Linked DNA regions of Homo sapiens. The protein of the gene in region 3 purifies or fractionates together with the protein of the main gene of each other region. This does not show direct contact. Each region holds a gene or a part of one and is shown on either strand. Other genes may lie near its edges.

Region 1 (5,045 bases), on a different chromosome or scaffold from region 3:
CTGCCACTTACTAGCAGTGGAACCCTACTCTGGTTGAATAATGTCTCTGTCTGATTCCTCAAGCATAAAATAATGATAATAATACAAACTTTGTAAGGTTTCTGTGAGGACAATGCAAGGAAAAGTGCTTAGGAGAGTGCCTGGCACATAGTTGCTCAATAAATGGTAGTTGTCAGAAAAAAAGGCTAGGAGATAGATGAAAATGTGAATAAGTGGTTAAATCAGTGTTTCTCAAACTTAAGCAATTACGTATCTTCTTCTAATTCTTTCTTGTAGGTGTGAACCCCACAAATTAAATGTATTTAGGCATTATTACTGCTTCACTCAGTCAATGTTTGTTCGGACATACCCACGTGTTCATCATTTCCTAGCTCAGATTCCTTACTGCATTTCAGAGCTTCTTTCTGAAATAATTTTGCTTTTTCCTAAGTACCTCTTTTAGAAGTTATTTCAATAAGAATCTGTTAATGATAAATTCCGTTTTTTTGGTTGGTTGGTTTCCTTTCGTTTCCTTTCTTCCCCTCCTCCTCCCACTCCGAGATAGAGTCATACTCTCTGTCGCTCAGGCTGGAGTGCAGTGGCATGGTCATAGCTCACTGTATCCTTGAACTCCAGTGTTCAATGGAACCTCCTGCCTCAGCCTCCTGAATGGCTAGGAGTAACTGTGACTACAGGCATGTGCCATCACATCCAGCTAATTTTTTGTAGAGATGAGGTCTTGCTATGTTGCCCAGGCTGATCTCAAATTCCTGAGCTCAAGCAATCCTCAATGATCCTCCTGCCTAAGTCTCCCAAAGCACTGGGATTACAGGCTTCTTCCTTTTTTTTTCCCTTTCTCTTTTTTTTTTAAACTGAAAAGTCTGTATTTAGCTCTTGGTCTTAAAAGATGGCTTAACCTAATATACAATTTTAGGATGAAAGTTATTTTCTCTCAGGACTTTGAAGATATTCTTTTTTGGTCTTCTGGCTGTTAAAAAGTCTTCTGTCAGTGTAATTGCCTAACACTCCTTTGCAGGTATTCTATTAGTTCTCTGACAATTTTTAAAATCTTTCTCTTTGTCTCTATTGTCTTACACAGTTTCACTACACTAATTTTTTATGTATCTAGCTTGGGATATGTTAGGTTTACTAAATCCATGGATTAGCATCTTTTTTTCCCATCATTTCTAGAAAATTCTCAGCTATTAATACCCCGAATATTGCCTCTCCGCATTCTATCATCTCCTTCTACAATCTGATTAGATGTATGTCAGTTCTTTCAACTCTGGCTTACATGTTTCTTTTTTTTCTTTTTTTTTTTTTTTTTAGAGAGAGTCTCACTTGCCCAGGCTGGAGTGCAATGGGGTGATCTTGGCTCACTGCAATTTCCGTCTCTTGAGTTCAAGTGATTCTCGTGCCTCTACCACCCAAGTAGCTGGGGCTATAGGCATGTGCCACCACACCTGGCTAATTTTTGTATTTTTAGTAGAGATGAGGTTTCGCCATGTTGGCCAGGCTGGTTTCGAACTCCTGACCTCAAGTGATCCACCTGCCTCGGCCTCCCTAAGTGCTGGGATTACAGGCATAAAACACCGTGCCCAGCCGTGGCTTACACATTTCTTAACCTTTTCTATATTACCTTTTTTTTTTGGTCTGTCTGTACTGCATTTTGAGTAATTTATTTAAATCAATCTTCCAATTTACTAGTTTACTCATCAGAATGTCTAATCTGCTGTTTATCTACTGAGTCTTAAATATAAATATTATATACATATTATTCATATTATATAATATTACATATTATATGATTCTTATAAGTTCTGAATTTTTTAAATTTATTTGGTCATCTCTTGTTTCTTGTTCATGTTTTTGGTTCTTTTACTTGTTTGAAAATGTTAAATATACTTACATTATATTCCTATTTCCCAATAAATGAAGTTTTTCAGGTGAACGTTCTGTTGACTGTTATTTCTGCTGATTCTCACCCATAATGTTTTGCTCCCTCTGTGCTCTGATTTATTTTTATTATAATTTCTTGTTCACTAGAACTTTATCTCTGGTAATTTTCAGACACTTGGGTTAAGGGTCCATTTCTCTAGAGAAATTTTTTGCCAGATGCCACGGGCACTACCAACCCAGAACAATTTAAAATAAATTCTCGGCTGGGCCTGGTGGCTCACACCTGTAATCCCAGCACTTTGGGAGGCCGAGGCGGGCAGATCACGAAGTCAGGAGACCAAGACACGGTGAAACCCCATCTCTACTAAAGGTACAAAAAATTAGCCAGGCGTGGTGGTTTGCACCTGTAATCCCAGCTACTCAGGAGACTGAGATGGCAGAATTGCTTGAACCCGGGAGGCTGAGGTTGCAGTGAGCCGAAATCATGCCACTGCACTCCAGCCTGGGTGACAGTCTCAAAAATAAAATAAAATAAATAAAATATATTAAAGTAAATTCTCAGCTTAGGGCTTGAAGGACCACATAGGTGATCTGAATTCAGGCCCAAACCCATATAAAGACCAATTTACGGAATTTACGGTTACAATCCTCAAAGGCAGCACTAGCTTTACTTTTTTTCCCTCCACTCCACTCACAGTCAAGGCCAAACATTTTTTAAAATCTGACATTTTTAGCTGTGGGAAGATTTTAAATAATGATCACTAAGTCCAAATACCTTTAAATATATTACTAAAGCATTATTAAAACAAGACGTTTGTTAGTTATCATGTAAAAAAGGTGGCTATATTTATTACCGGGACACTTAAATGCTTAATAGTCCCAACTAATATTCAATCAACTAATAGGTACTTTGTGAAAGACAATATATTGGGTGCAAACAAGAGCAGTGATATCCCACACCGGGAGTAGTTTATTATCAACTAAGCTGTAGGGCAGAGGCAAATCATGATCCTGTATCTTAGGACCGAAAATAGGGTTCTACTAAATCCTATCAAGTAAAGACCAGTTAGATAGTTTTTAACAGAATTAAAATGAATGATATAAGGATATGGTATTTATGACCTCAGGAAAGAAAACGATAATTAGAAGTACAGTGTTCCCTTCAACTGTTGGTTTCAAACGAGAAGTCACACTTCAGATTTAATATCAGGAGCTACAGGTGATGGGTGCATCAAAATCTCAGAAATCACCACTAAAGAACTTATCCATGTAACCAAAACCCACCTGTACCCCAAAAACTATTGAAAAATAAAAATTAAAAAAAGAAAAAGAAGAGAACAATAAATAAAAGCAAGAAGTTTTCAGTCAGGCCCCGCTGACCCACGACCCACCAACCCACGAACTGGCCCGGCCCTCACGTGCACCATGTCTGGCTCCTCCAGCGTTGCCGCTATGAAGAAAGTGGTTCAACAGCCCCGGCTGGAGGCCAGGCTCAACTGCATAAAAGTTTCCCAGGCAGCTGCAGACTTCAAACAATTCTGTCTGCAGAATGTTCAACATGACCCTCTGCTGACTAGAGTATCTTCAAGTACAAATCCCTTCAGACCCCAGAAAATCTGTTCTTTTTTGTAGTAAAATGAATTTCAAAAGTTTCCCAAACCACTTCTTATGATCCAGTGGATATTCAAAAGAGAGCTAAATTTGAAGCCTGTACAAAAGCTTATCCCTGTAGCACATGTGCTGTAATATACGAACTTCTAGTTTCATCAGTCTTTAACATCTACCTCTCTGAATTTCATGAATTTCTATTTCACAAGGGTAACTGTTTTATCCACACTGGCAGCAGCATACAATAAAACTCAGTATGAAAAAAAAAGTTTTCTTTCCCAGAAAAAAAAATATGTATATGATATATATATCAGGAGCTAGGAGGAAAGTGTTTTCTACTTCTTTCTCTTTTTTTTTTGAGATGGAGTTTTGCTCTTATCGCCCAGGCTGGAGTGCAATGGCACAATCTCAGCTCACCACAACCTCCACCTCCCAAGTTCAAGTGACTCTCCTGCCTCAGCCTCCCGAGTAGCTGGGATTACAGGCATGCACCACCACAACCGGCTAATTTTGTATTTTTAGTAGAGATGGGGTTTCTCCATGTTGGTCAGGCTGGTCTCAAACTCTCTACCTCAGGTGATCTGCCCGCCTTGGCCTCCCAAAGTGCTGGGATTACAGGTGTGAGCCACCGCACCCGGTCAAGAGTTTTCTATTTCTAATCACTGCCTAGACTATCACAACAGATAATCTATGCAATAATGGGTTTCCTCACAGCACTTTTAGAAGCAAAGTTTTTATACTCACTTGTAAAAGTAAAGTTCACAAATACAGCTCACAAAAGCCAGAAGACATCGCAAAAAGTAAAACACAAGAATCTAAAAGAAACCCAGAAAAAGAAAACAGAAGTCACAGATATGAGCTAGAAAAACTCATAAACATGAACCACTCTCATTTATTGTCAATAACACTGTAAATTGGTATAATTCTTTTGAAAAGCAACATGGATCAAGAATTTTCATATCCCTTGACTCAATATCAGTATACCTACTTCTATCACTCCAGCTGGTGGGGGTTGGGAGGTAGAGCTCCATTCATGAAAATGTTAATTGCAGTTTTAGTAAAAACTGTTTCAAAAACTACAAAATATCCAATTATAGGGAAATGATTAAATAAACTAGGCTACATCTAGCTCATGGACAATTATACAGCTATTAAAATTTATGTTTACAAAGATAGTGAAAACATTCTTGCAATATAATGCTCATTCAACAAGCAATTCTTCAACAACCATAATATATCAGGTAGTGATTATGACAAAATATTAAGAGAAAATGTACAATATTATTTATACATCAGTTACAGCTATGGACACTATATGCATGTGGAAAGACTGGAAAGAAATGTAATAAAATGGTAAAAGTAGCTATAGCAACCTGGTAGATTTAGATGAGTATTTTTCCTCCTATCTTCCAAAGTTCTGTTATGTGGCTTTATTAATTTTATAATTGACATCAATTTAAAAAATAAAAATAATAAAATAGGGGTTATATTAAGTAGCTTTATACTACAGAATACCATATGGTTAAGAGCACTGAATTTCTCAGAACTTAAACACTACT
Region 2 (5,045 bases), on a different chromosome or scaffold from region 3:
TGCAGCTGAGCCTGGATTGAGGAGGAACATCCAGATGACCAGGGATCCCTAAATCTACATTCTACTTCAGTTTTCTCTGGATGCTTCTGTCAGGTCCTGTATGTCAGCTGGGACTGGCAGACACCTGGTGCCTGGAAAGGCTTCAGAGGAAGGCTAGGAGGAGTCCCTGAGCTCGGTGGATCTGAGCTCACCACACTCAGCCATTGCTTGGCTTCCGTGTGCTGTGCAGACCAGAACTACTAGCACGGGAAGGGGGCCGAAGGCAGGGGCAGTACAGAGCATCATCGCTTAGCCCAGGAGTGCCCCTGGTATGCCTGGGGTCTACATTGACACTGGATGGTCTCTTCCCGACATTGGCCATCTGACTGTGCTCTGCGAAAGGACCACAAATTCCAAGCGTGTCAGAGCATAATGTCACCGGAAGGGGCAACCCCCCCATCCATTCATTCCTTCACTTATTCATTCATCTAACAAGGACTTAATGAATTACCAGGTGCCATGTACGGTGCTAGAGGTTAGGAATTGAGAGAGAGAATCCTTTTGGCTTCAAGGGGTAATCGGAAGAGTAAACTGCAACACAGTGTAAGTTCATCTTACAAAGAAGAATAGTAGTATTGAACTTCTATTGAGTTATTTCAATTTCTCAGGAACTTTGGGAATGCTTTAACTCACTGTCCCATTTAATCAGCACAACAGTCCTATGAGATAGACTCTAGCATTTTTCCCATTAAGCAGGTGAAGAAACTGAAATGCAGAATGGTTCAGTAATTTGTACTGAATTGAAATCCAAAATGCTTCAAAATCCAAAACCTTTTAAGTGCTGACATGATGCTCAAAGGAAATGCTCACTGGAGCATATCGGATTTCAGATTTTGTGGATTTGGGATGCTCAACCAGTAAGTGTAATGCAAATATTACAAAATCTGAAAAAGTTCCAAACACTTCTGGTCCCAAGCATTTCAGATAAGGGACACTCAAGCCGCATGTAGTGAAAGAGCGAGGCCGGGACAGAGGCAGGGTTTGAACCATTGACTCATTGCTGAGTCCTGGAGACTCAGAGTACTATGGGAACAGAGAAGCATCCGCGTCAGACAGGCATGCCCAGAGTAATGAAGTCAGTCACACACCAGTAAGCCCCAGAACCAAGGCCAGAAACCAGCCATGGCGGGGCGGGCGGTGGGAAGTGGATCCCAAGCCCAGGTTCCTATGGGAACCCATCCATTTCCCATGCTATTCTTTGGGTTTACTCTGACAACTGAGGAACAAGGAAAAGGCCTTTTTATCTTCTTCTGCTAAACTCTCTCCTTAGGAAATCTCAGCTTTTCCAAAGCTTCCATTTCAAATAAGTCGGCATCACCCAAATCTGCATCTTCAGACCCTTCACCTGCATTACAGAGCCACTCATCCTTCATGTGCATCCAACTCAACGTGTCCAAACCATACTTGGGCACCCTCTACATCCCTCTATACTTAACCTGCTCTTCCTTCCATGTTGCCCATCTCAGTGAGCAGCCATGCCTCCAGCTGAACAAACCTACCTTTGTCCCATACCTAACTTGATCTCCAATCACCCACTTCTCTCCATTCCCCTTACCCTGCTGTGTTTTCATAACTTGGCCCTCCATCACTCTAGCCTGGACTGTGCCATGCCTCCTATTGGATGACCCTGCCTTGCTCATTTCCAATCCATGTCCCACCCTGAAACCAGAATACTTTTTAAAGAAAAACTGATACTATCAATTCTCTGAACGCCTTCAACAGCTTTCCACTACCCTTATAAAGTCTAAAGTCTTTCACCTGAATTTAAAAACTCTCCAACTTCACCTTGCCTCTTGTCACCACCCCTGCTCTTCCTACCACTGTTAAAATATTCATTTCAGTCACACAAACATCCTTCAGCTCATTGAAAACTGTTTCCTTGCCTCCAGAGCTTCACTCCTCATTTGCCTTGGCTTAGAACACTCTTCCCTCTCCTGACCTCTCTGCTTGGCCATCTCCTACTCATGTTTCCAGTAATGGGTTAGACCATGGGTTGGCAAATTTATCTGCAAGAGACTAAATAGTAAATATTTTAGGCTTTGTGGGCCATATACGGTCCCTCTTATATATTCTTCTTTCAAAAAAAACTTACAGCTCTTTACAAATGCAAAAATCATTCTTAGTTCACAGGCTGTACAAAAACAGGCCACAGACTAGATTGAGCATTCAGGCCATTGTTTGCTGAGCCCTGGTTTAGGCATCGCTTCCTTCAAAAGTTTTTCAAGGCTGTCTGTCCCTTAGAGTCTTGGGTGCCCCTATATATGTTGCTACAATGCTCTGCACTTGCCCTGCTGTGACAGAGCTTACTAGGTGTTCACCAGAATTCATGCTGCTCTCTTCTTGGGTTCCCTTCCCCTAGTGACTGAGTTCCAGCCAATGAATTATGACCAGGAATGTGTGTCATTTCCAGGGCTGGCCCATAAAACCCAGCCTTCCTAGTGACCGAGCTCTGGTCAGTGAAATACCAGCAGGAATGAGTGTCATTTCCAGGACTGGCCCATGAAACTCCCTCACATGCACTGCTTCATGTCTACTCCATCTGGTTGACTGAGGATGGAGATGACCCCCAGAGTAACCTTGGAAGCCACATGATGAAGATGGCAGAGTCACTCTCAGCCTGGATCCCAGAGTGACTGCATAGAGCAATCCCTGCCCCTACTCCTACCCCTACACACACACACACACACACACACACATACACACACTCACACACACACACACCCTACAACCTGCGACCATGCTGAACTATTATATGGGAAAGAAAAATTTTCCACTGTGTCAAGCCATGATGTATGGGTCTACTTGTGACTGTAGCCTGGCCCACCCTAGCACACTCTCACAGCATGTATCACAGCTCATGTGAGTGCTTATTTAAGCTCTGTCTTCTGTGCAAGGATAGGGACCTTATCAGTCAATTCCACCACTGTCTCAAACATCTAGCATGAAGCATAGCACACTTCCAGCAAATAATTGATGAATAGATGAGTATCTGGAATCTCATTTATCAGAGAGCCCTTGGTCCCATGCCTGGGTGGGGGCAAGTATTGAAAGGCCAGGAGCACAGGGGAGAGCACTCACCTTCTTTGCTAACACCCAGGCAGCCCTTCAGCTCAGGCAGTGAAATGACCTTGTCTTTGTTCAGGTCACAGTAGTCGGTGAAACGCCGGGCACATTTCTTGGGCTTGGCTTTCTTCTTCACGTAGCGCTTGAAGGGCTTCATCTCCCGCTTGTTAATGTCGTTGCTGCTATTGCTGTCCAGCTGGCTGAAATACCAGTGCACTACCCGCTCCTCCAGGGTGTGGCTGGGGTCTGGCTCTGAGAACCTGGGCCATGGACAAACACCCCCACCGCAGAGAACACCAATCAGGATCTTGCAGGAACCATCAGCCCTGGTATGACTGCCCCCAGAAAGTCAGGTAGAAACGGCTCCTCCAAGCCAAAGTCCACCCACAGCGGCTCAGCCTGTGGCAACGTTAAGCCATCCTCTCCGACTCAAATCCTAAGATTGGACCATTCTTTTCTCAGGACTCCCCAGGTGGGTAATCCTTATTACACAAACATGACTCACCCTCTACCAAAGCCAGAAATGTTCTTGTACATGATGGGTGCTCAAGACAAATTGGCTTGATCTAATTTGCTGAATAAACCAGAGCTGGAATCCAAATTGTCCCTCCCCTGGCCTAGCACTCACTGCGGACAAGCTGCTCATTACACGTAAACATGTGCCCTGTGGTGGACTGACTGTGGGGAAGGTGCTCTGAGCATCCACTGTACGCCCAGTGCCAGTCTGGGCCCTGGAGGGTGCACCCCTGGCCTCAAGTGGCTCACTGTCTCTATGAGACAGAGCCAAAAAGGTGAAAATAGTCATGACAACTGAATGTGGGGTGTGAGGTTCCCACGGTCCATCACTGCTGGACATCCAGTGCAGTGGGAATTGAGAGAAGAAAGCAACTGGGTCAGACACCAACAGAAGTTCCAAAACTGGAAAAGCCGGGACCTACTGGGGATGAGTCTCTCCAGCCTGAGGTTTTAGTCAGGGGATCTGGGGTGGACCCAGGAAACCATGTATTCACCAGCACTGCCAGGTGATTCTGCTGAGAAATGCTGGACTAGAGTCACCAAGAACACTTCCTGGCATCCAGAGGCAGAGTCACAAGCACATCTAACACAGCCCCTCATCAAGTTACAAGGCCAACATCTACGTCTACATGTGTAACTGTATGTAATGGCCTACTCATCTATGTTATTTACTTAACTGTCTCCTATTTTCTCCCAAAACGGAGTCAGGGTGATAACTACTATTTACAATTTTTAAAGCCAATAATGGGTCTATTACAGAGGGGCTGCCTGGGTTCACTAACGAGGAGAATGGAACCCCATGAGCCCCATGGCTCCTGTTCCCAGGGCTTGGCACTGAGTGACTGTGATCTAGGCCCTTGTGCAACTTCCCCTGGGGAAGGAGAAAAAGATTGATGTTGGGAGTCCCACACATTCACATCCTCAGTGTGCAGGGCGCTGGGACAGAGCACATGACTACCAGAGGTCAGAAGTGGGGCAGAGGGCTCACTGTTCCAGAGGGATCCTAGATCAGGGTCGAAGGCCTGTCTGCACATTCTGAAGCTGTTCCTGGTGGGGAAACTATTCAAGGCACTTGTCATGCCACCCTGACTTCTCTGGGGTTTGCTGAGTTTTCCAGAAGGGAGATAATCTCTGACCCCTCCCCTGTGAACAAGCCAGCAAACTCCCTCCTCTTCCACCCCACCAAGTAACGTCCAAGTTCAGGGAAAAAGAAGTTCCATTATGCGGGGGGAAAAAAAGCCAGTCATCCATCCCTGTTAGATGCCTATTCCTAATTAGCTGAATTTCAGTCTTGAGCAGGTAATCCGGGCATCCTGGACTGATTCCAGGAGGATGCAATTAGTGGATCTGCCAAGGGGACCTCATCGTGACAGGTTTAACTCAAAGAGTACCTGGCGGAAGGTGTGAGGGAGCCGTGGAGAGCTGCC
Region 3 (5,645 bases):
AGGGACCCCCAGCACCCCTGGGAGGCGGCAGTCATCAGGACCTACTCCCAGATAAGGAGAGTCAGGGGGATATTGCCCCGCTGACCCCCAGCAAGGCACTGGGGAAGTTTCAGAGCCTGACAGGAGCCCACACCTGTCCAATTCCTGCCTCAGAGTGCCAGCCAGCACCTTGTCCTGCAGAGGATGACAAAAGACAATGAGACCCAACCTGCAGGCAGCGCTTCCCGTCAGCGGGGCCTCTCCTAAGCCCTCGGGACTAACAACCTGGGAACTAGCCTCTGATGTGGCACCATCATTCCCCTATTTCACAGGGGAGGAAACTGAGGCACTGTAAGATGAACACCTTTGCCCAAGGCCTCCCAGCCCGCGCAGGGCACAGCAAAGGTGCACACCAGGCAGGGGGCTCCAGAAGTGCCTGTCCCCTGCCTCCCCGGCACTGTGAATTGAGGCACAGCCTGGGGTTGGTGTGACCTGTCTACCCTGGGCTGGGGAGAGAGGGTGGCAGAGGCAGCCTGGCCGTGCCCCTGGCTCATATCCACTCGTGTTTGCAGCAAGGGTCCTTCTCAGGGAAGGCAAAGGATCCCTCCTCCAGAGGGAGGCGGCTCCAGTGCTGAGTTCCCCACTCCCAACTGCCGGGGTGTGACTTGGGGACATCCCTTACCCTCTCTAAGGCAAGGGGCCCTGACTTCTCCATTTACTAGTTCTTGGCAATTTCCATAACCCTCTCAGTTTTCTCATCTGTAAGATGGGTATAAGAACGTTACCAACTTCATTCCTAGGTGAGCTCCAGCAGGAGGAGAGGCCGCGCCTGGCTCACTGCTGGGCCCCCATGTCTAGAACAGTGCCAGGCACACAGCGTGTGCTCAAGGAACCACGTTTGTTATTGTTACTACTGTTGTGGGATGATGCAGGGACGGGCCAGACAGGGGAGCAGAGGGAAGGGATTCCTGATACAGGGAACACGCCCAGTCTGGGGCTGCCGGGGCTCCTCCGGATGCTGGGCCCACTTCTTTCAGGGCATGTGTGTTGGGGGACACGCAGGTGCCAGGGCAGGCCCACCAGAGGAACCCCCAGAGGGGTTTCCGTGGGAGCTGCGGTTGAGCATGGCTTGGAAGTTTCTGGGGAGAGGAATGGGCTCAGTGCTGCAGGAGAATCGGCCAGAGCTAGGGTGGGTGTGGGAGGCATGGAGAGGCAGCCCAGGAGCCTGATGCCTGGGGCATTGGTGAGCACTGGGGGAGGTGGAAAGATGCAGGAATAAATCCAAGTATGAGGTTTATGTCGCCAAGCCCTCCAGAACCCCTCCACCACCGCACCACCCACAGGCCTGCGCCAAACTGGCCTCCCTCTCACACTCTCCTTCTGGCCCCCACAGCCCCTGGAAGGGAGAGAACTGGGTGTTTGGTCCCTGCCCTGGCAGGTGAGGAGAGACTGCAAGCAAGAGGGGCATAGCCTGCACCCCCAGACCAAGCAGGGGGCTATTGTGCCTATGCAGGGGAACAGGTGAACAAAGACAGTTCCTCCCTGACCCGCCTGTCCCCAGCCTCACCCTCATCCTCTTTGATGTACCCCCAGCCAGTCACCCAGCAGTCTGTCCGGTTCTCAAACTCAAATGTGGAGGCCTGGAGACAGATGGGCTGGATGTGTTTAGTGTAGGTGACAGGTGCAGACAGCTTCACCAAGGCAATGTCATAGGGTGAATTCCCCAGGTAGCGAGGGCTCAGATAGATATTCGATACGAAGTAACGGGTGTAGTAGGCCTGCAGGCTCCAGAAGGATGGCATGGAAGTCAGCTGGCCAAACTGGACCATCCACCCGGAGGGATCACTAAGGTCACTATAGCTGGCAGAAGAGAAGAGAGCAGTCAGGGGCCCTGGATGGAGGGCTGGCTACCTGAGCACAACTGGGGTCCAGTGCAGGAGGGGAAACTGTGGTGTTGCTGCTACTTGCTAACACCCAGGGTCCCCTGCAGAAATGAAGGAGCCCAGACAGACCACAACCAAAGTCCTAGGACCTGCTCCTGCAGCAGAAGGGTGGGGTCTTGTCACCTCCCAGAGCTGTCCCAAGGAGCCTTGCATTGAGCCAAGGCCTCCAGGGGCACCCCCATGCAGCCCAAGGAGGAATGGGGAGATGCACCACGCCAATGTGGGATTGGCAGGATGGAGTCCACACAGCGGCCCGGGGGTGCTGGCCTTGGCTCAGTGCCCCACACTGTACCGCACCGTCCACCAGGAGGGGGGATGAGGGTGGGATGGTCAGTGGTGAACTTTGGGTTGAAAGAAAAAGGGAGAGAATACCCAAAAGTGTGTGGAAATGTTCTGGAAGAACATTCTGGAATAACCTGAACAGGGTTCCCTCCAGGAGACCCAAAGGGAACTGGAGTGGGTGTAACCGGCTGCAGCACAGCCTGGGGCTCAGGAGAACACCAGGCCGCATCCACGCACAACTTTCACGCCCAAGTCTGGCATCAGACCAGAGGTAAAGTTCGGTGGCACTCCCTCCAGCCCTGTTCCTGCCCGTCCCCGCACCCCTCCGTTCGCACCCCCACTCACGTTTCAAAGCAGTGCGCCGCCGTGAGTGCCCAGCGGTGGCTGAGCAGGCTCACTCCGCATACGTGGGAATCCCACAGGCGCAGGCTCCCCTGCCACGGCCAACGCCCGAGTTCGGCGTCCTCTCCACCCACGATGCGCGACGTGATGACCCGTCGGCCGCATGGTCCTCGGATGGTCAGAGGAACTGCTGAGCCGCGGGAGGCAGCCCCCCAAGCCCGACCTCTCCCTTTCTCCCCTTCAACCCCGTCCGGGAAAGCACGTTTTTGCCCACCCAGGGTCCCCTCGCGTGTGTGCAGCAGGAAGTAGGTGACACTGGAGATCCTCCCACGTGCTCTGCAGGGCCCGCCCATCCCCCTCCAGCGTCCGTTAGTTACTTTCCACGCCAACAGAGTTCTCGATCCCGGGGGCGGGGGCGAGAGAGCAGTAAAGGCCCCCCTCTACCCCCTCACCGCCCCCCGTCCACCTCGGCCCAACGGCCCTGGCAGGAATCGCGCGTCCTGGGCGCCCTACCTGATAACGGCGCCGCCTCCTGCGACTCTGCGGGAGACAAGAAGTGACTCCCCGCGGCCTCCACCTCCCGTCCTCCCCACCGCTCCCCCGCCTCCCCATCCCGCCAGCAGCGCCCCGAGCTCACCCGGCTTCCTGAGTCCAGCCCGAGCCAGCAGCAGCGCCAGCAGCAGCGCCCCGCGCGCGCCCATGGCCTCCTCTCCCGCGGCCTGACGCCCCCTCTGCCTCCTCTCGCGCCGGGCCCGGGGCGCCCCCTGGGGGCGGGGCGGGGTGGGAGCTCTGCCCTCTACTCCCAGCTTCACCCTCCTGGGCCCAAGGGCTGTTTGGGGCCTCTCATGCCTGGCAGCGCCCTGGCTTTCAGCCCCTAGGGGCGGGTCTTCAACCACACTTCTTGATGTGGCCCAGACCCGGTGGACCCCACAGTCCCTTTCTTGTCTGCAGCCCAGGGGTCCCGGCTGCCCTCTTGGTGACCCCGTCCTCCACCTACAACCTCCTCCAGCACCAAGGGCCTGGCCCTGAGCCAGGAGTCCCCTTAAAGCCTGGGGACCCCCTGAAGGCCGGGTGGGGCCTAGAGGCATGGCTGCTCCTTCATGGGACCTTCTTGGGAAAACAGTGGTCCTCGGCCCGTTCCACCCAGAATGGGGATCTCCCCAAGTCTCTGCCCAGGCTGTCCCCACTGCGGGCTCCCGCTGGGCTCTCTTCACTTCTCTGGAACAATTTTTTTTTTTTTTGAGATGGAGTTTCGCTCTTGTCGCCCAGGCTGGAGTGCATTGGCGTGATCCCAGCTCACTGCAACCTCCACCTCCTGGGTTCAAGCGATTCTCCTGCCTCAGCCTCCCAAGTAGCTGGGGTTACAGGCGCGCGCCAGCACACCTGGCTCATTTTTGTATTTTTAGTACAGACGGGGTTTCGCCATGTTAACCAGGCTGGTCTCCAACTCCTGACCTCAGGTAATCCGCCCACCTCGGCCTCTCAAAGTGCTGGGATTACAGGCATGAGCCACCGCGCCCAGCTGCAATTCCACTTCTGAGCATACACCCAAAAGAACTGAAAGGAAGGTCTTCAAGAGATATTTGTTTTTGGTTTTTTGGGGGGATTTAGTTTTGTTTGTTTTTGAGATGGAGTCTTGCTCCATCGCTCAGGCTGGAGTGCAGTGGTGCGATCTTGGCTCACTGCAACATCTGCCTCCTGGGTTCAAGTGATTCTCCTGTCTCAGCCTCCAGAGTAGCTGGGATTAGAGGCACCTGCCACCATGCTTAGCTAATTTTTGTATTTTTAGTAGAGATGGGGTTTCGCCATGTTGGCCAGGCTGGTCTTGAACTTCTGACCTCAGGTGATCTGCCCTCTGCGGCCTCCCAAAGTGCCAGGGTGAAGGTGTGAGCCACCCCACCCAGCCTTCAAGAGATATTTGTATACCCATGTTCATAGCAGGATTATTCACAGTAGCTGACATGAAAGCAACCCAAGAATCCATTGACCACTGAACAGATCAGTGAAAATGGGAATGTACAACCAGAACCTGGGAATCCCGCCTCCCTCAACTTGAAACTTGGGAATAGCGTATTCTACTTTCAACACTTGCACTAGTGGAAGGTTAATTACATGAAAGATTAGGCAAAATGTGTGGTTAGGCGTTCTGGTTTTCCAATAAAAGTATTAAGTTTCTTTGGGGAAAGTACAGATAAAATGCTTAGCACAGAGCATGGTACCAACGGGAACTCAATGAGGGCGCAGCGGGTGTGTGGGAGCTTCGGGTTTCAGGAGCACAAGGCTGCGGTGCCTTCCCTCAGGGCCTCCTTCCCCAGCAGCAGCTGCTCAAGGACAAGTCACATGCACAGCCTGGCCTTGGCCTGCTGGGTTGGGGCAAAGGTCCCTGGGCTTCTGATCCTGCCCCTCTCCCAGCCAGCAGGACGTTCCCTCTGGTTCCTGAGTCCCAGGGATCCGCTGAGGCCCCTAGGAGGTGTCAGCTCCTGGTTTTGCCCAGGGTCTCAGTCAGGCCAGTCCTACCCGGAGATCTGAGCCAGGGACTCAGGTTCTTGCCTCCAGTGAGGCTGGGGGCTTCCCGCAGAGGCCAAGCCTGGCCCGGGGGCTGCAGGGAGGCCCTGGCTGCTGCATGGGCTGCAGATGGAGACTCTCTTGTCTGCTGTGCCTCAGGCTGCAGAGTCACAGAGGGGTCTTCCCAAGCCCCACACCTGGAGGGCAGGGAGGACAGGGACTTGTGGTCCTAACCCGACTCCTGACACATAAGGGCCAGCCGGCCCGGAGCCACCTCTGCGGGCAGGAGAAGGCCTCATTGTTCCCTTCTCCTGGCAGAATGAGGACTGGGGCGTGCCCGGGGCAGGAAATAAATGCTCAGTAAATCCCTCTCTTGGGAGCCCTGATCCCAAGGGACAAAGGGCCTGTGTTGAGTCTCCCTGGGCACGGGCTCGGGGCCAGCACTTGGGCCATGGCAGATGGAGGGTGGGAGGAGGGTGCCTCCCACCAGGTGGGCTTCTTCCCCAGGTCAGGCATGCAGGTGAGGAGCGTCCTCGTGTGTGCATGCCCCCTGCGTGCAGGAGAGGCTGGGCGGGTGTGTGTGTCTGGGTGTAT
Region 4 (5,045 bases), on a different chromosome or scaffold from region 3:
CACTGCCATCTCTGTCTCCCAGGTTCAAGGGATTCTCATGCCTCAGCCTCTCGAGTAGCTGGGATTACAGGCACGCATCACCATGCCTGGCTAATTTTTGTAATTTTGGTGGAGACGGGGTTTCACCATGTTGGCCAGGCTGGTCTCGAACTCTTGGCCTCAAGTGATCCACCCGCCACGGCCTCCAAAAGTGCTGGGACTACAGGCGTGAACCACTGTGCCTGGCCAAACAGTTTATTTTTAGTGTTGCTCTCTGTTGGTGCACCAGAAATGAAAGAGGGAGCTAGATGGAGACATAAGTTGACAACAACACTGATATGGGGATACTCAGATACATCCCTATCATTTTTACCATTCAGCTAGACAGAGGCAGTATAATGCCTATACCCACATTACCTGAAACAAAAACAAACCCAAAACAAAATAAAAACCCAAACATGCCCACAGCTTGCCCTTGTGATAAGATCATGTGTTCACATACTTTCCCTACTAAAGTGATCCATTACTGGCTAATGATGAAAATTCTGTGTTTTTAAAATAATTCTTGAACCATGTGATGACTTTGCCTTTGGCCCATCGGCCATTCACAAAAAAAATCCTTTGTATTGCTGCCAATTGGAGAAAGGAGAGAAAACTAAAATTTGCCAACTTATTTCTTGTCTTCTCCTTGAGAAAAATAGGCCATTAATTTTTTCCAACTATGAAGAGTAGGTGGGAACTACCTCCTGTCTTGAGAAGCATGAAGGAAAAGTAGCTACTTTCCTTTCAAATACATCTAAGTATGTTTGCAGGTTTTGTGGCAGCAATACTTACTAATCTAGTTAATTTAAGATTCAACTTTTTTTCAATTCACTTCTTTTGTAAGTTAGGTATCATTAATCAGATATTTACTCATTTTAGCTTCTACCTGTTCTTCTCTAACATCAAGTGTCTCACTGGATGGCCCTATCCATTAGCACCTCAGGGCAGAAACATGGTAGTCATGTTCAAGTTTTTCTCTTTAGCATCCTACACCCAGTCTGATACTCAGTTCTGTCAAATTTATGTTTCAAATTAATTCCCTTGTCTCCAATACTAGTGCCACCACCTGAGGTGTAAGGCCCTCAGCAATTTTCATCTGGATTACTACTCCTCAAACATTTCAGCCTTCTGACTGGTCACCTGCTAATACCCTCTTTACAAATTAATTTTTCATAATTTCTATGTGCTAATATATATAAAATGAAGTTTATGGTTGAGTGAACTGTGTCATGAATACTTTAAATGATGAAAAAATTCCCAAGTTTCTTGGAATTTAACTATTTTGAATATTGCTACTTACTTTGGGAATGCATCAAAACAGTAGGTCTTCTTGGTATCAGGAAAGGCAACTCGCATTCCCGAAGTCAGAGGAGAATGAAGAATAACAGCAGCACTCTCATATCGAGCAGCAAGATCCACAGACGGTACTGTCCCTATACTTTGGCCATATATAATCACATTTTCAGGGCGAATGCCATATCTACAAAGTTCAGGCGTTAAAAACAAAAACCAAAAAAGTTGGAGTGATATGAAATGTTCCATCATTCCAAAGGATTTGATCTTAGAATAAGACAATGTCAACTAATCCATTTTTTAAACTTAAGTTTCTTAGCTATTACTGTTAGTTTTAACATTACAATAAAGTCTGTATCATCAGTTTATTTCATGTGTTTCTCTACTTCATCTTTTGGAAGAATAATTGCTGAGGTATTTTAAGATTTCAATCTTAAGAAATAAATTTATTAAATAATTTATTACACTATAATATTTCAACCTAGCTTACTGCTGACTAAGCTTGGGGCATATCACTAATATTTTAATGAACTGATGTTGAATGAATAGGTCATATTTATTTTCCGTTCAGTGTAACAAAAGTTATTTATTTCTCCACACATCAAGAGTGGCTCATTTTAATTTCCAAAATTGGTCATATTGATGAACTGTTACATATAGTTATGGTATGAAATGAATATATGTATGGTTTTAGTAAAGGGCAAATTATGATTTTACGATTTTTCTTAAAATTGATCTTTGCTTAGTTGTAGAAATGGACTAATGGTTGAAAAGATAAAAAAGAATTCCAAACACCACATGGTCCAATTATTTATGATTAGACTTTACGCTAAAATTACAAGGTACTATTTTAATCCCTTTAAAATGGCCACAGGTTTAAATAGATGAAAACTCATTGACTCAATAAATATTTATTGGGTACCTAGTATGTTCAAGGAACTGCTTGCTACTTGTCTACAGTATAATCATCCCAAATGTAAACTACTGCAAGTGTAAGTACAGTGCTACCTGAGCTAATGAATGTGGGCTTAAAGGTTATAGTGACATTAAATACACCTTTCCACTTAGAAGGCAGACAGCAGTCACTCTGGCAGCTAAGAACATAACAGCTGCTTTTGGAAATCTTTTGCAAAGGTAAAATATCTTTCTAAGAATCTGGATATTCACCAGGAAAGAGCGAGGGAAACTGTCCGTGTGTTCTCTTCCAGGGGCATAATACTATTTCAACTATACAGGTAGTAACACAGCTCTCCCCATATAGTTTCTTCAAGTCAGTACTACACAAGCATTTGTATAGGACACAGAAAGTGGGGCTCTGTCTACTTCAAATTGACTCTAAATATTAGCAAACTCAGAAAAGCTTTTTTCTTTACAACAGACCTAGTTGCACATATTTCATACGAATGAAGAAATTAGGAGAATGAACATTTGCAGCATGACCACAGTTCTTGAGGCTGCATTGTTGCTGTCAGCTGAATATCAGCATTGTTGGTGGCAATCATGAAATTTGGGCTACAGCTAGCAATGACAATGCTCAAGGATAGAGTCGCAGAGGTAGCTGACAATTAAGCATGAGGGGACTCACAAGAGTAACAACTGCCTAACAGTATGAGCTAGAAAGGAGTTTAGAGACCATCTAATCTAGAGTCCAGCTGCCTAATGAGCAGATCTTCAAAGTCACCAGTAGATGACAGCTCTATAATTAGAACCCAGGTATACTGACTCCCAGTTCAGTGTTTTTTACCTCTGAAGCACACAGATGAGGAACTCAAGGACTTTGTGGGAAAGGTGCATAGTGAATGCCAGGCCCCGAGTTTCTTTTGGTCCATCAGAAGGTCAGAAATTGGAGTTATTATGGATATCCAATTTTCCCAAAAAGGACATTCCAATGTTCATTCATCCCAAAAATGAACATTATTTAAGTTCATTATTTATTTTCTCTCTCCTGGTTACTTAAGTCCTAACTTTTAATCAGGCAAATAAAATAAAAGGCATGTATTCTAATTACACACATTTCATTAGATGACAGAATTCCAGAATTGGAAAAGATCTTGGGGATCATTTAATTCAATCTCTTCATTAAACAGATGAGGAAACACAGGCTCAGAGAAGTAATATTTCCTAAAGTACCTACACTTATGAAACTCCAACTATATTTTGGTTTCAACACGAAAGAAAACACAGGTCTAAAATTCTAAAATATAAGTGCTAAAATAGTATGTGGGATTATTGATGAAATCTGCCCATTCCTGATTAACACTGGCTATCAAATATGTTAAAAAAATTAAGGCTGAAAATCATTTTTCAAAGTTTTCTTCAAATTGGTAAATGCCAAGATTAAAAGAAAAGAAAAGAAAAAAACAGTAAAGTTGACCACTTAAAAAATGGGATTTTTTCATATAGACACAGAACACTGAACTGAATACTAACATGTTTTGTTTGAGTAAAGTGACCCTTTTGCGTTACTGGGAAGCACTAATAATGAAAGCTGGCTATCAGTTTTAACTTAGCACCCTTTAAAACTTCATTATTCCACTGAAGTTAACCTTTAAAAGTGTGAACCTTATCACTCAATAAAGCTATTTTTTTAATTATAATACTTTCTTATAGTTGTTATACGTTATTCAACTGACTGACTCTAAAAAGTGGGCACTCAGTTTCTGTTTGTTTTAAGGCTTGATGGAACTGATATCAATATATGTAAAAGATTTTTATTTAAAGCAGTTTTTAATTTATCAATTAAACAATAACTTTACCATCCCCCATCAACTCTTTACCTACTACTTGCCATCTTTTTTTCCTTATTCCCCATATTTATGTTTTTATATAATTTCAGTTGATTTTAAGAATCCCTTTTATGTAGAACTTCGCTATGAGAGCATAACTTTATTACATTTCTTTGGAGGGAAAAATAGTTTTAAAGATATTTTTAATATCTTTAATAATATTAACTACTTTATTATTAAAATTGAGGAAATTTTTCCTGACTAAATGAAATCTTTAATATTTAAACATTAAATTAGAAACAGTAAGTTTTCTTTATATCCTATAGCTTCAGTCTAAAACATCCTGGAAGTCAGATATTTTATTTTCATATAATATAAAGAATAGCCTATATTAAGGTATCTGTTTATTGTACACTAACCTGACTAATAATACACTGAAGTCTACCAAATTGTGATTTTTTTTTCAAGAAAAATGTTTAGGTATCTTGGTGACTAGAAAAGATTAATGCAATTTCTAGTTCCCCAAAATGTATGCTGCTATAATCAAAGAATAACTGACATAGTAAGAAAATTTTATTAAACAATTTATCATAACATTAAAACTTCTTTTTTTTTAAACAGAGTCTTACTCTGTCACTTGGGCTTGAGTGCAGTGGTGTGATCTCAGCTCACTGCAACCTCCGCCTCCCAGGTTCAAGTGATTCTCCTGCCTCAGCTTCCCGAATACCTGGGATTACAGGCACCCGCCACTGTGCCCGGCTAATTTTCGTATTTTTAGTAGAGACGGGGTTTCACCATCTTGGCCAGGCTGGTCTCGAATACCTGACCTCGTGATCTACCTGCCTTAGCCTCCCAAAGTGCTGTGATTACAGGCATGAGCCACTGCGCCCAGACATTTTTTTTTTGTATTTTTAGTAGAGATGGGGTTTCACCATGTTGGCCAGACTGGTCTCGAACTCCTGACCTTGTGATTCGCCTGCCTCAGCCTCCCAAAGTGCTAGGACT
Region 5 (5,045 bases), on a different chromosome or scaffold from region 3:
AAAAAAAAAAAAAATAGAATCCAGGATATATAAAGAATTTGTATAATCTATAAGAAAAAAGATAAATGTCTCACTAGAGAAATGGGTAAAAATTATGTTTAAGCAATTCACAGCAAAAAAAAAAAACCTGAATGTTCTATGAAAACATGCTCACCACACTAATAATCAGAAAAGACAAATTAAAACCATTCAACTGGCAAAATTACAAAATGTGACATTATTAAATATTCATGGGGGCTTTCACAAGTATAAGAGATTATACAGTTTGTCTTAAAAAATGGTCTTTAATTCTGGCTAAACATAATTACAAATTATGTAATTTTGCAAATTACAAATACTACAGGGTACTGTTATGGGTTTGGGGGCAAAAAAGAGAAGAAACACATTACACGTCATCAGCAATTTCACTTCTAGGCAAATATCTAAAAAGTATGTGTGCACAGTGAGACATGTGCCAAAAAATTGCTACAGTCTGTTATAGTAAGAAAAATACCTATAAATGAGAGAGAAAAACATAAAATATAATACATATTTTAATACTGTATATATACTATAATATATATGCACTATATTATATATGAAATATATGTACTATATATAAAATATACTATATATTTTTACCATACCTACTAAATATATAATAATAATATATTTAAAAATATAATATATGTATATACTTATAGTATTTATAGAACACTATATTGCAATGAATATGAATAAAGTAACTGTACCCGAAGCAACTTGAATTAATCATAAAAAAATATTTCCAAGAATGCAAACAATATTTGACAATTTAGGCTAATATTTTATTTACTTAAGACAATACTATATATGAATTAAATATGTAATATATACAGTAAACTCAAGAGAAAATGCATAGAAATAATAACAGCAAATTTACCACACTGGTTACCTCTTAGAAGGGAGATTCAATCTGGAAGAGTACCCAGAAAACTTCAATATTACATTTAATCTTTTATTACTTAACCTGGGTGGTAATTCAAGGGAACTTGTTTCACTCATTTTTGTGTCTGCTAATCAAACTTGTCATAATAATAAAAAGTCAGAGTCATTAAAAGCTCCAAGTACTCTGCACAGCAGCACCTCAACTCTAAATGCCATGTTCACATGTGATTACTGAAATTCTGCTCTTGGCAAATCTGCCTTTCTGATGCAGGACTCTTGTACTTCAGTAAGAGTGACTCATGTGATCTAATTTACTATACTCTAAGCAAATCTTTCTCTGAAGCACGGTAATCTGGGAAGACACAAAATAAGATCTAAAAAGCTTTGCAAATGGCTCCTCCCCCAAATGCTAAATTAAGTGCCATATTGATCTGACTGAATTGGAGAGCAATTGTTGTGATAAACTCCCTGTTCCTAGTTACACCTGGAATAGATTCTGTTAATATGTGGACTCAAGTGCCCCACCCCCATATATTCTATTGTAGTAATTCTGATGGGGGATCCTGGGACTGGTGTTTTAAGGGCTACTTTTTTCACTTTTAAGATTTATTTGGTTCAATGGACAAAGTTTGAGACATACTGCTTCACAGAATTTAGAGTCTGTCTTAGTATCTTTAGGGTGCTACAACAAAGTGCTATGGAATAGGTGCCTTGTAAACAATAGAAATGCTTTTCTCATAGTTTTAGAGGCTGGAAAGTCCAATATCAAGGCGCTGGAAGATTTGGTGTCTGGGGAGGACCCACTTTCTGCTTCATAGACAGCCATCTTCTTATGTTTAGTCGGGGGGGAAGGGGCAAGAGAGCTTACTCAGACCTCTTTTATAAGGGCACTAATTCCATTCCTGAGGGCTCTGCTTTCATGGTCTAGTCATCTCCCAAAGGCCCCACTTCCTAATTTTAATTTCAGCATATGAATTTGGAGAAGACACAGCATTCAGAACATAGCGCAGTCTCATAGTAGAAACGAATAAATGATTACAATGGAATTTCAGAGGCATTATTAAATGATCAGAAAGGGAGGAATACTTAAACCTATTTTCTTAACATGAAGGTCTTCACAGAAGAAGTGACACTTGTTTTGTGTTTTCAAACATCGCTAAAAAAATAAGAAAGTGAGAACCATTTGGGGCAGAATTCTGGACAAACACACACACACACACACACACAAAAGCCGAGAGGAATGAAACATCCTGAGTGTTTAAGAAAATGCAAGTAAATTTTCATAGTAATTGATAATTCTGAAGACTGAAAAGAAGAATTCATGCTTCATATCACAGAGTACCTTCAATGACTAAGGAGTTTAGAAATTGTCATTTTTGCCCTGACAGATAGCTCGCCAAACTTGTTGCACATGACTTCAAATGGCTGATCCCAGGAAGTGGAAGTAAGAATTGGAGGGCAGGCCCATGAGGAGAAGAGGTGAAGTTCAAGAGAAAAATCATAATTTTTTTTTTCTTTTCACTACATGATCATAGGGAATGAGGCAGAGGGACATAGCAAAGAGGAATGTGTCTTGATGCATGATGTGCTATTTACCACTTGGAAATCTAAAGAGATAAGCAAGTGTGGCAGGGAGGATGATACCTGTGGCTTTGAATGCTTTCCTTTAGGACAGTTTCCTTTAAAATGCTTGTGATGCATTTCTAGGTGGAGATGAAATTAGATCTTTGGAAATATAGGTATGACAATCAGGAGCAATGCATGGACAAGAAATATAAAATTTGAATGTCATTACTGAAACTCCGGAAATGTATCACAACATCTGGGTGACTATCGAGTGCGAAAAAATAATAAGGGCAAAATGCAGAAATATAATGAAGAAATAGAAATTTATAGTTGATGGATAATGTATGTAAAAGTATATAAGGTAAAGGCTCAAAAAATGTTAGCTTACTCCTCTTAATCCCTGAATAAAGACCAAATTAGACAGCAGATGTTATTGGAAATTACTTGGAATTTCAGAGGTAAGGAACAGCAATAGGGTTGGAATAATAAGAAAAATTTTATGGTGGAGAAGGAACATGAACCACCCTAGACAAATGGATAGGGTTTGGCCAAATGAAGAAGATAATTTTGCAGATTAGAGAAGACACGTGTGCAGAAATGGAAAGGCAGAAAAGAACAACTGGCTGAAACTGACGTACTGGATCCTTAGCAGGCATCCTGGCTACATATGCACAAATTTCAAAGAAAATGGAAAGCCCCTCAGTTTTCCCCAAGTGCTCTGACCCCCAGAGATGATACAGGCAGGGTGGCAGATAGGGGTGGGGTATATTTTCTGAAAAAGTTATTTACTGTTTATGAGATCCTTGGAAAGTAACTGTAAAAGTTTGCTCTTGGAGAAATGCAGATAATGCTTTGGACATGAAAAAGATATCAAGGAGATTAAAAAATTATGAGTACTAAAATAAAATTCAAGGAATAATCAAACTCCTTGTTTAAATATGGGGGAAAATAGGTAGGTCCAGTTAACTGAAGAGAATGGCTCCCTTAAAAGCAGCAGTATGACATACTAGAAAAGCATGTACTCTGTCATGAGAAAGAACTTGTTTTTAATCCTGGCTCTGCCCCTTTTTGGCTGAATAGTCATGTCTATTTTCCTTAAACTCTCTGAGCTTCATTCTCTTCATGTGTTGTAGACATCTAATAAAGCCTACTTTGAAAGGGTTATGTGGGGATTAAGTGAAATATCTATTGCAGGTACGGTGACTAACACTGTTTCTACAGTTTTATCCTATGTAGTTTTGAATTAGTCAGTTAGCCTTCTAGGACCTCAATTTCCTATAGAATTAGGAGAATTGGCACTAATATATTTTAGGTACAAATATGAATACATTAACAGTAACATTGCTCACTTCAACAGCAAGTTTAGAGAGATAAATGATTATGTGACCAGGTCATAATCTAGCCTATTGTATGCTATCATGTTTTTGTCTGTGGTCTCAGAAAGAGGAAAATCAGTTGAGTTTAGGTGGCAAGAAGGAGCTCATTCTCCAGCAGATTGGTGGAAGCTCACCTCAAGATACATTTCAAATGGTGCATTGCACCTGCTCATTCATCAAGCTGCCAGGGGCTTACTTTACTGCCTTGCTTTTTTTCATTTAAAATTCACATCTTTGTGGTGTCTAGAGTTTCTCAGCTTTGTAATGAAAGTAATACATTAAATCTTGCTTAAATAAAAGTAGTTCCTAATGTATTAAGTATAGATGAAGGCCAAAAAGTGAGATTTTATAGCTAAGCACAACACTACTTTCCAAATAGTGCACACAAGTGTATAGCTTCCTTTTCATCTCTGGTCAATGTTATTTTGTATTTGAATTGATTCTACTATGTTATAAGATAAAAGAAAATTATACAGAACAATGCAGTTCTCTTTGGGGAGATATTAGGGTATTTGTTCTTTATTTTGTGCAGTATAGGGTAAGAGAAAGTTGGCATTAAACCTTTGGGACTCCCTAGGCAGCTGTTGAGTCTCTCCCCTCCTCCCATGCTCAGCTCAGTGCTATATCACTGGAAATCACTAACCTTCATAGAGTAGAGCCCAGAAGATGGTAACACTGGTTCAAGGACAGGCTAAGGGAAGCGAAGGGAAGTAAAAGGAAGTAAATAGGAAAATACAACAAACATGTGATTAACAGCTGTTTTCTGAAGCAAGGCTCCACCAGGGATCTGCAGCTGTGTCATTGTGCTTCAATTCTGCAGCTCCTACAGGGCTAAATTGGAAGAGGCATGGAGCAGGAAGATATGTGCGAAAAGGCTAAAGGAAGTCCAAAAACCGTGGCAACAATATAAGGTGAATGCCCCCACTCCTTAGATATCCTAATTTTTATCCCTCATGGGAGAGGTATAGGTCCATAAGAAACAAAGTCATCTTACCAACTGGATATCTGCTCCGAGCTGCTGCTGCTTCCTCTTCCTTTTTTTGGGGGGTGGGGGCCGATTTTGGAAGGGCAAATATTGATGGAACATCTACCAACACTGCCTCTTCCCTTTAACAAAATCAACATGATGCATGCTTACAGATTGCCTTTGAAAGTTACCAGTGCCTCCTCAAGATATAGTAGAGAAGCAGGTTTTAA
Region 6 (5,045 bases), on a different chromosome or scaffold from region 3:
ATGTATATGCATTTAAATTCAAATTTTTAAGAGCCGAGGCTGGTACAAAAATATGTATATGCATTTAAATTCAAATTTTTAAGGGCTGTGACCGGGCGCGGTGGCTCATGCCTGTAATCCTAGCACTTTGGGAGGCTGAGGTAGGCAGATCACTTGAGGTCAGGAGTTTGAGACCAGCCTGGTCAACATGGTGAAACCCCGTCTCTGCTAAAAATAAAAAAATTAGCTGGGAATGGTGACTCGCGCCTGTAGTCCCAGCTACTCAGGAGGTTGAGACAGGAGAATATCACTTGAACGTGGGAGGTGGAGACTGCACCACTGCCTTATTGACAGAGCAAGACTCTGTCTCCAAAAAAAAAAAAAAAAAAAAAAAAAGAGTTGGGCACTGTGGCTGAAGCTTGTAATCCCAGTACTTTGGGAGGCTGAGATGGGAGGATCGCCTGAGTCTAGGAGTTTGAGACCAGCCTGGGCAACATAAAAAAAACATAAAAAAATCCTGTCTCTACAGAAAAAAAAACTCTACAGCTTTTAGGAATTTTATGTGACTGTAGTGCTCTAAACTGTTTTAAAAATAATTCTGTACTACATCATGATCACAGTTATCAGTGCTTTTATTTTTTTAATCAAATGCTCTCAGAATATTTGATCAAACTTGAATGCTATAATCAAACTTGAATGCTGTATATATTAAAGATAAAATTTATTGGAAATGTATCTTTTAAGAGATGAGTGGGCTTTTTTCAGTTAGTTTATATATATATGAATGAATGTTATTGCTAAAGTATATAAAGGTTTTGGACAAAAAAGTTCTTTGGCATCAATTTTATTCCTATTTTTTGTTGTTTTTTGTTGTCAAGATGGAGCCTCGCTGTGTTGCTCAGGCTGGAGTGCGTGGCTACTCACACAGGTGTGATCATAACAGCAGCCTCAAATGAACCGCTGGCCACAGTGCCCTGGGTAGCTCTAGGTGGGACTATAAGCACGTACTGCTATGTCCCTGTTATTCCTTTTTCTTTTTTTTTTTGAGACTGAGTCTCGCTCTGTCGACGGGGCTCACTGCCACCTCTGCCTCCCAGGTTCAAGCGATTCTTCTGCCTCAGCCTCCCAAGTAGCTTGGACTACAGGTGTGTGCTACTACGCCCGGCTAATTTTTTGTATTTTTTAGTAGAGATGGGGTGTCACCGTGTTAGCTAGTCTGGTCTCGATCTCCTGACCTCGTGATCTGCCCACCTCTGCCTCCCAAAGTGCTGGGATTACAGGCGTGAGCCACCGCACCTGGCCTGATGGTTGCTTTGAGATAAAATAAATTAATAGAAAGTATTTAGAATACTACCAGGCACATACCGAGGGCTTATATAAATATAGTTCAGCTTTGTTTTACTTTGAGTTTTAATTGTGAGTGAAATTGAGTATCCTTCATAAGTTATTTAATTCATTATAGATATATATTTTAATGAATTGCTTCTTTGTGTTCTTGGCTTATTATTTATTCATTTATTTTTGAGGCAGAGTCTTGCTCTGTTGCCCAGGCTGGAGTGCAGTGGTGCTATCTCAGCTCACTACAACCTCTGCCTCCTGGGTTCAAACAATTCTTGTGCCTCAGCCTCCCAAGTAGCGAGGACGACTGGCATGTGCCACCACGCCTGGCTGGGTTTTTTTTGTCTTTTTAGTGGAGACAGGGTTTCACCATGTTGGCCACACTGGTCTCGAACTTCTGGCCTCAAGTGATCTGCCTGACTCGGCCTCCCAAAGAGCCGGCATTATAGGCCTGAGCCATTGTGCCTGGCCCCTAGCGCCATTTTCTACTGGGACATTGGACTTACTGATGTGTAAGGATTCTTGGTATATTAAGGAATTTACCTTTTGTGTTTCCCTAGCAACTAATGATAAGCATTTTTCATGTGTGTATTCTTTTTTTTTTTTGAGATGGAGTCTTGCTCTGTCACCCAGGCCGTGGTGCAGTGGTGTGATCTTGGCTCACTGCAAGCTCCGCCTTCCGGGTTCACGCCATTCTCCTGCCTCAGCCTCCCGGGTAGCTGGAACTACAGATGCCCGCCACCACGCCTGGCTCATTTTTTTGTATTTTTAGTAGAGACGGAGTTTCACTGTGTTAGCCAGGATGGTCTCAATCTCCTGACCTGATGACCCACCCGCTTCGGCCTCCCAAAGTGCTGGGATTACAGGCATGAGCCACCACACCCGGCGAAGTTTGTTTTCTTATCATGACAGCCATTCAGATATTTAAAGGCAGGTTTCATGTAATGGCAGTTTTCTTCCATCCCTGCACCAATTAAACCTTTCTAGTTGCCTCAACTGTATTTCATGGGTTATGGTCTCCAAGCCACTTTGTATCATTTGCACAGATTTCTTACAGGTTAAAGGCATTGTTTAAGTTTAGTCCTCAGCACACCGTGAGATAAACATTTGCTATTTCCACCTCAGCCTCCCAAAGTGCTGGGATTACAGGTGTGAGCCCCCGCGCCCAGCCAGTGAATTAGTTTTGTTGTTGTTGTTCTTTTAAACAGAGTCTCGCTCTTTTGCCCAGGTTGGAGTACAGTGACATGATCTTGGCTCACTGCAACCTCTGCCTCCCGGGTTCAAGCAGTTCTCCTGCCTCAGCCTCCTGAGTAGCTGGGACTACAGGCGCCCGCCACCACGCCTGGCTAATTTTTGTGTTTTTAGTAGAGACAGGGTTTCACCATGTTGGCCAGGCTGGCCTCGAACTCCTGACCTCATGATCCGCCCGCCTTGGCCTCCCAAACTGCTGGGATTACAGGCATGAGCCACCACGCCTGGCCTAGCATTTTAGTGTTTAGCAGCCACCACTAGACGTAGTGTAATATAGTTTGGTATGGGTCTTTTTTATGAAGTCTCTTTTGACTATTGATTTAATTGAGAACCTCTGCAGTCATTAGCCCCTCTGGGCCTTTTTTTCTCATCTGTGTAATGATGGGTTTGGTAAGAAATCAAAGGAAGTATCTTCATTTTCTTATAAGAGGGTAAAGGAAGTCTGTATATATTTGTGTGTATAGACTAGTATACAGTTACACAGATGTATACATTTGTGTGTTTATGTCTACAAAAATAATGTCTATTTGTATCTCCATCTCCATTAAACAGTTCAACTGTTTAATCTTCAACAAACAATTCATTGCCAGTCTTGTTTCATTTTTATCCTCACTAAAGTAAATTCAAGATGTTGTATTTGATTCATAAATATATTTTTTTAACAGATAAGGACTCCAAAAATATACAATTTTGGCATTTTTTATGTTTTGGCTTTTGAATAGACAACTTACATGCAGTATAAAATTCAAGAAGTATGAAAGTCTTTTCTTGTTCCTTATCCCTTAGTCATTCCATCTCTAAGAGCATCCATATCTGTACATAATGTAGAGCTGCCTCATTCTTTTTAACAACTGCATAGTATTCAGGTGTGTTGCTATATGGTAATTTAATTCTTTATTAATTGGTATATTGTTTATGAAAGCAAAAACCAGGAAACAGTGTTCTATTGAGTTTCTTGTTACTTATGTAATTTTGTGTTCGTGGAAAGTTATTTCTAAATACTTGTAAATGAAACTGCTGGCTTCAAGAGTAAGTCCTTTCTTTCACATGTACATTTTTAGTTTTAAAAGATATTACCAAATCTTAACCTGTTAAATTACATTAAAACCCTTTGGAGGCTGGACGTGGTGGCTCATGCCTGTGATTGTAGCACTTTGGGAGGCAGAGGCAGGACGTTTGCTTGAGCCCAGGAGTTCAAGACCAGCCTAGGCACCGTAGTGTGACCCTGTCTGTTAAATAAAAAGGGGAGTTAGGCAGGTGTGGTGGTGCACACCTGTAGTTCCAGCTGTTTGGGAGTGCTGCTCAGGAGGCTGAGGTGGGAGGATCACTTGAGGCCTGGAGGTCTCTGAAGCTGCAGTGAGCTGTGATCACACCACTGTATTCCAGTGTGGGTGACAGTGAGATCCTGTCTTGAGGGCAGGAAAACCTATTGGGTAGAATTAAAAATTATGCAGTGAATCTGTCCATGTAAAGCATCCCTCTCACCTGTATTTGATGATGCTAATTGAGATTTGTAAATAGCTTTTCTTAAATGTAGATGTATTTTGTAGAAGTAATTTTATTGTTTGGCATAGGGTATACATTTTGTCAGTGTTTTTCTACAAGTAAATGTTGAGGGAATTAATAATACCAGTTGGAATCATATTTGTATCTCATTTGGAAAGGTTGTAAAAATGTTCTGATAGTAAAAATTGAAGGCAACAAAAATGAATTCTCCACATACCAGATGAATAGGCAGGCTGAGGATTTATTACTGGCTGATATGCATAAATAGCCACTATTAGCCATTTAACTAACACACCAGAACTACTGCTAAAAATTCCCTTGAGATTATATGGCATTTAGGATTAGAAGAAAGAACAGAAATAGCTAGAGAAACCTGATCCTATGGACAGGTTTCTGGATAGAACTAGCATACCTTATGGGCAGCCCTATCCCAGATAAATAAAAACACTGGTAGAAGGTTTTTATTAACTGTTCAGTTGGTTTAGGTTTTACTAAATGATTTTTAATTTAAGCATCTTTATTTGAAAAGCCCATAATACCCCTAAGAAGGTTTGGCTGAGTCATTTACATGTCATTCTGAATGGATTCAGTTGCTTAACCCTGCTGAAATTTCTTGTGAGTTTACAATTTTAAGGGACTTGGTTGCCTGAGGAAAGGTCAGTAGAAGGCATGAGAGCTATACACTGAAAAGATAGGAGAGGAAATGTCTGATATGTAAATGTTAATTTCTTCACAACTTAAAATTATTTGCAGTTCTTCCAAGATTGATCATATACTATTGATTAACCACATATATGTTATTTATTAACTTTTATGTTGATACCACTCATGTTTTTATCCTTTGACTTATTTTTACAGATAAAGTGGAGAATTTTCATGAAGAACATGAAAAGAATAGTCACCATATTCACAAAAATGCTGATGACAGTACTAAGAAACCCAATGCAGAAACTACAGTGGCTTCTGAAATC

Evidence for each region.
Region 1: the proteins of PRSS21 (region 3) and ALG9 purify together in Homo sapiens (affinity purification with mass spectrometry; one large-scale study listed by BioGRID and IntAct). This does not show direct contact.
Region 2: the proteins of PRSS21 (region 3) and SMOC1 purify together in Homo sapiens (affinity purification with mass spectrometry; one large-scale study listed by BioGRID and IntAct). This does not show direct contact.
Region 4: the proteins of PRSS21 (region 3) and ABHD17B purify together in Homo sapiens (affinity purification with mass spectrometry; one large-scale study listed by BioGRID and IntAct). This does not show direct contact.
Region 5: the proteins of PRSS21 (region 3) and ROBO1 purify together in Homo sapiens (affinity purification with mass spectrometry; one large-scale study listed by BioGRID and IntAct). This does not show direct contact.
Region 6: the proteins of PRSS21 (region 3) and WAPL purify together in Homo sapiens (affinity purification with mass spectrometry; one large-scale study listed by BioGRID and IntAct). This does not show direct contact.

The regions. Positions count from the first base shown.
Region 1 is NC_000011.10:111,860,951-111,865,995, forward strand, and holds part of ALG9 (alpha-1,2-mannosyltransferase ALG9), read right to left. Parts: intron 4,302-5,045; coding exon 4,231-4,301; intron 3,749-4,230; exon of another isoform or gene 3,243-3,748; intron 1-3,242. UniProt on the Homo sapiens protein: Mannosyltransferase that operates in the biosynthetic pathway of dolichol-linked oligosaccharides, the glycan precursors employed in protein asparagine (N)-glycosylation.
Region 2 is NC_000014.9:70,021,520-70,026,564, reverse strand, and holds part of SMOC1 (SPARC-related modular calcium-binding protein 1 isoform 1 precursor), read right to left. Parts: intron 3,363-5,045; coding exon 3,118-3,362; intron 1-3,117. UniProt on the Homo sapiens protein: Plays essential roles in both eye and limb development. Probable regulator of osteoblast differentiation.
Region 3 is NC_000016.10:2,814,871-2,820,515, reverse strand, and holds the start of PRSS21 (testisin isoform 1 preproprotein), read right to left. Parts: upstream 3,280-5,645; 5' UTR 3,248-3,279; coding exon 3,184-3,247; intron 3,087-3,183; coding exon 3,060-3,086; intron 2,716-3,059; coding exon 2,550-2,715; intron 1,840-2,549; coding exon 1,547-1,839; intron 175-1,546; coding exon of another isoform or gene 110-174; exon of another isoform or gene 1-109. UniProt on the Homo sapiens protein: Could regulate proteolytic events associated with testicular germ cell maturation.
Region 4 is NC_000009.12:71,868,762-71,873,806, forward strand, and holds part of ABHD17B (alpha/beta hydrolase domain-containing protein 17B), read right to left. Parts: intron 1,502-5,045; coding exon 1,322-1,501; intron 1-1,321. UniProt on the Homo sapiens protein: Hydrolyzes fatty acids from S-acylated cysteine residues in proteins. Has depalmitoylating activity towards DLG4/PSD95. Has depalmitoylating activity towards GAP43. Has depalmitoylating activity towards MAP6. Has depalmitoylating activity towards NRAS.
Region 5 is NC_000003.12:79,760,500-79,765,544, forward strand, and holds part of ROBO1 (roundabout homolog 1 isoform a precursor), read right to left. Parts: intron 1-5,045. UniProt on the Homo sapiens protein: Receptor for SLIT1 and SLIT2 that mediates cellular responses to molecular guidance cues in cellular migration, including axonal navigation at the ventral midline of the neural tube and projection of axons to different regions during neuronal development.
Region 6 is NC_000010.11:86,500,631-86,505,675, reverse strand, and holds part of WAPL (wings apart-like protein homolog), read left to right. Parts: intron 1-4,932; coding exon 4,933-5,045. UniProt on the Homo sapiens protein: Regulator of sister chromatid cohesion in mitosis which negatively regulates cohesin association with chromatin. Involved in both sister chromatid cohesion during interphase and sister-chromatid resolution during early stages of mitosis.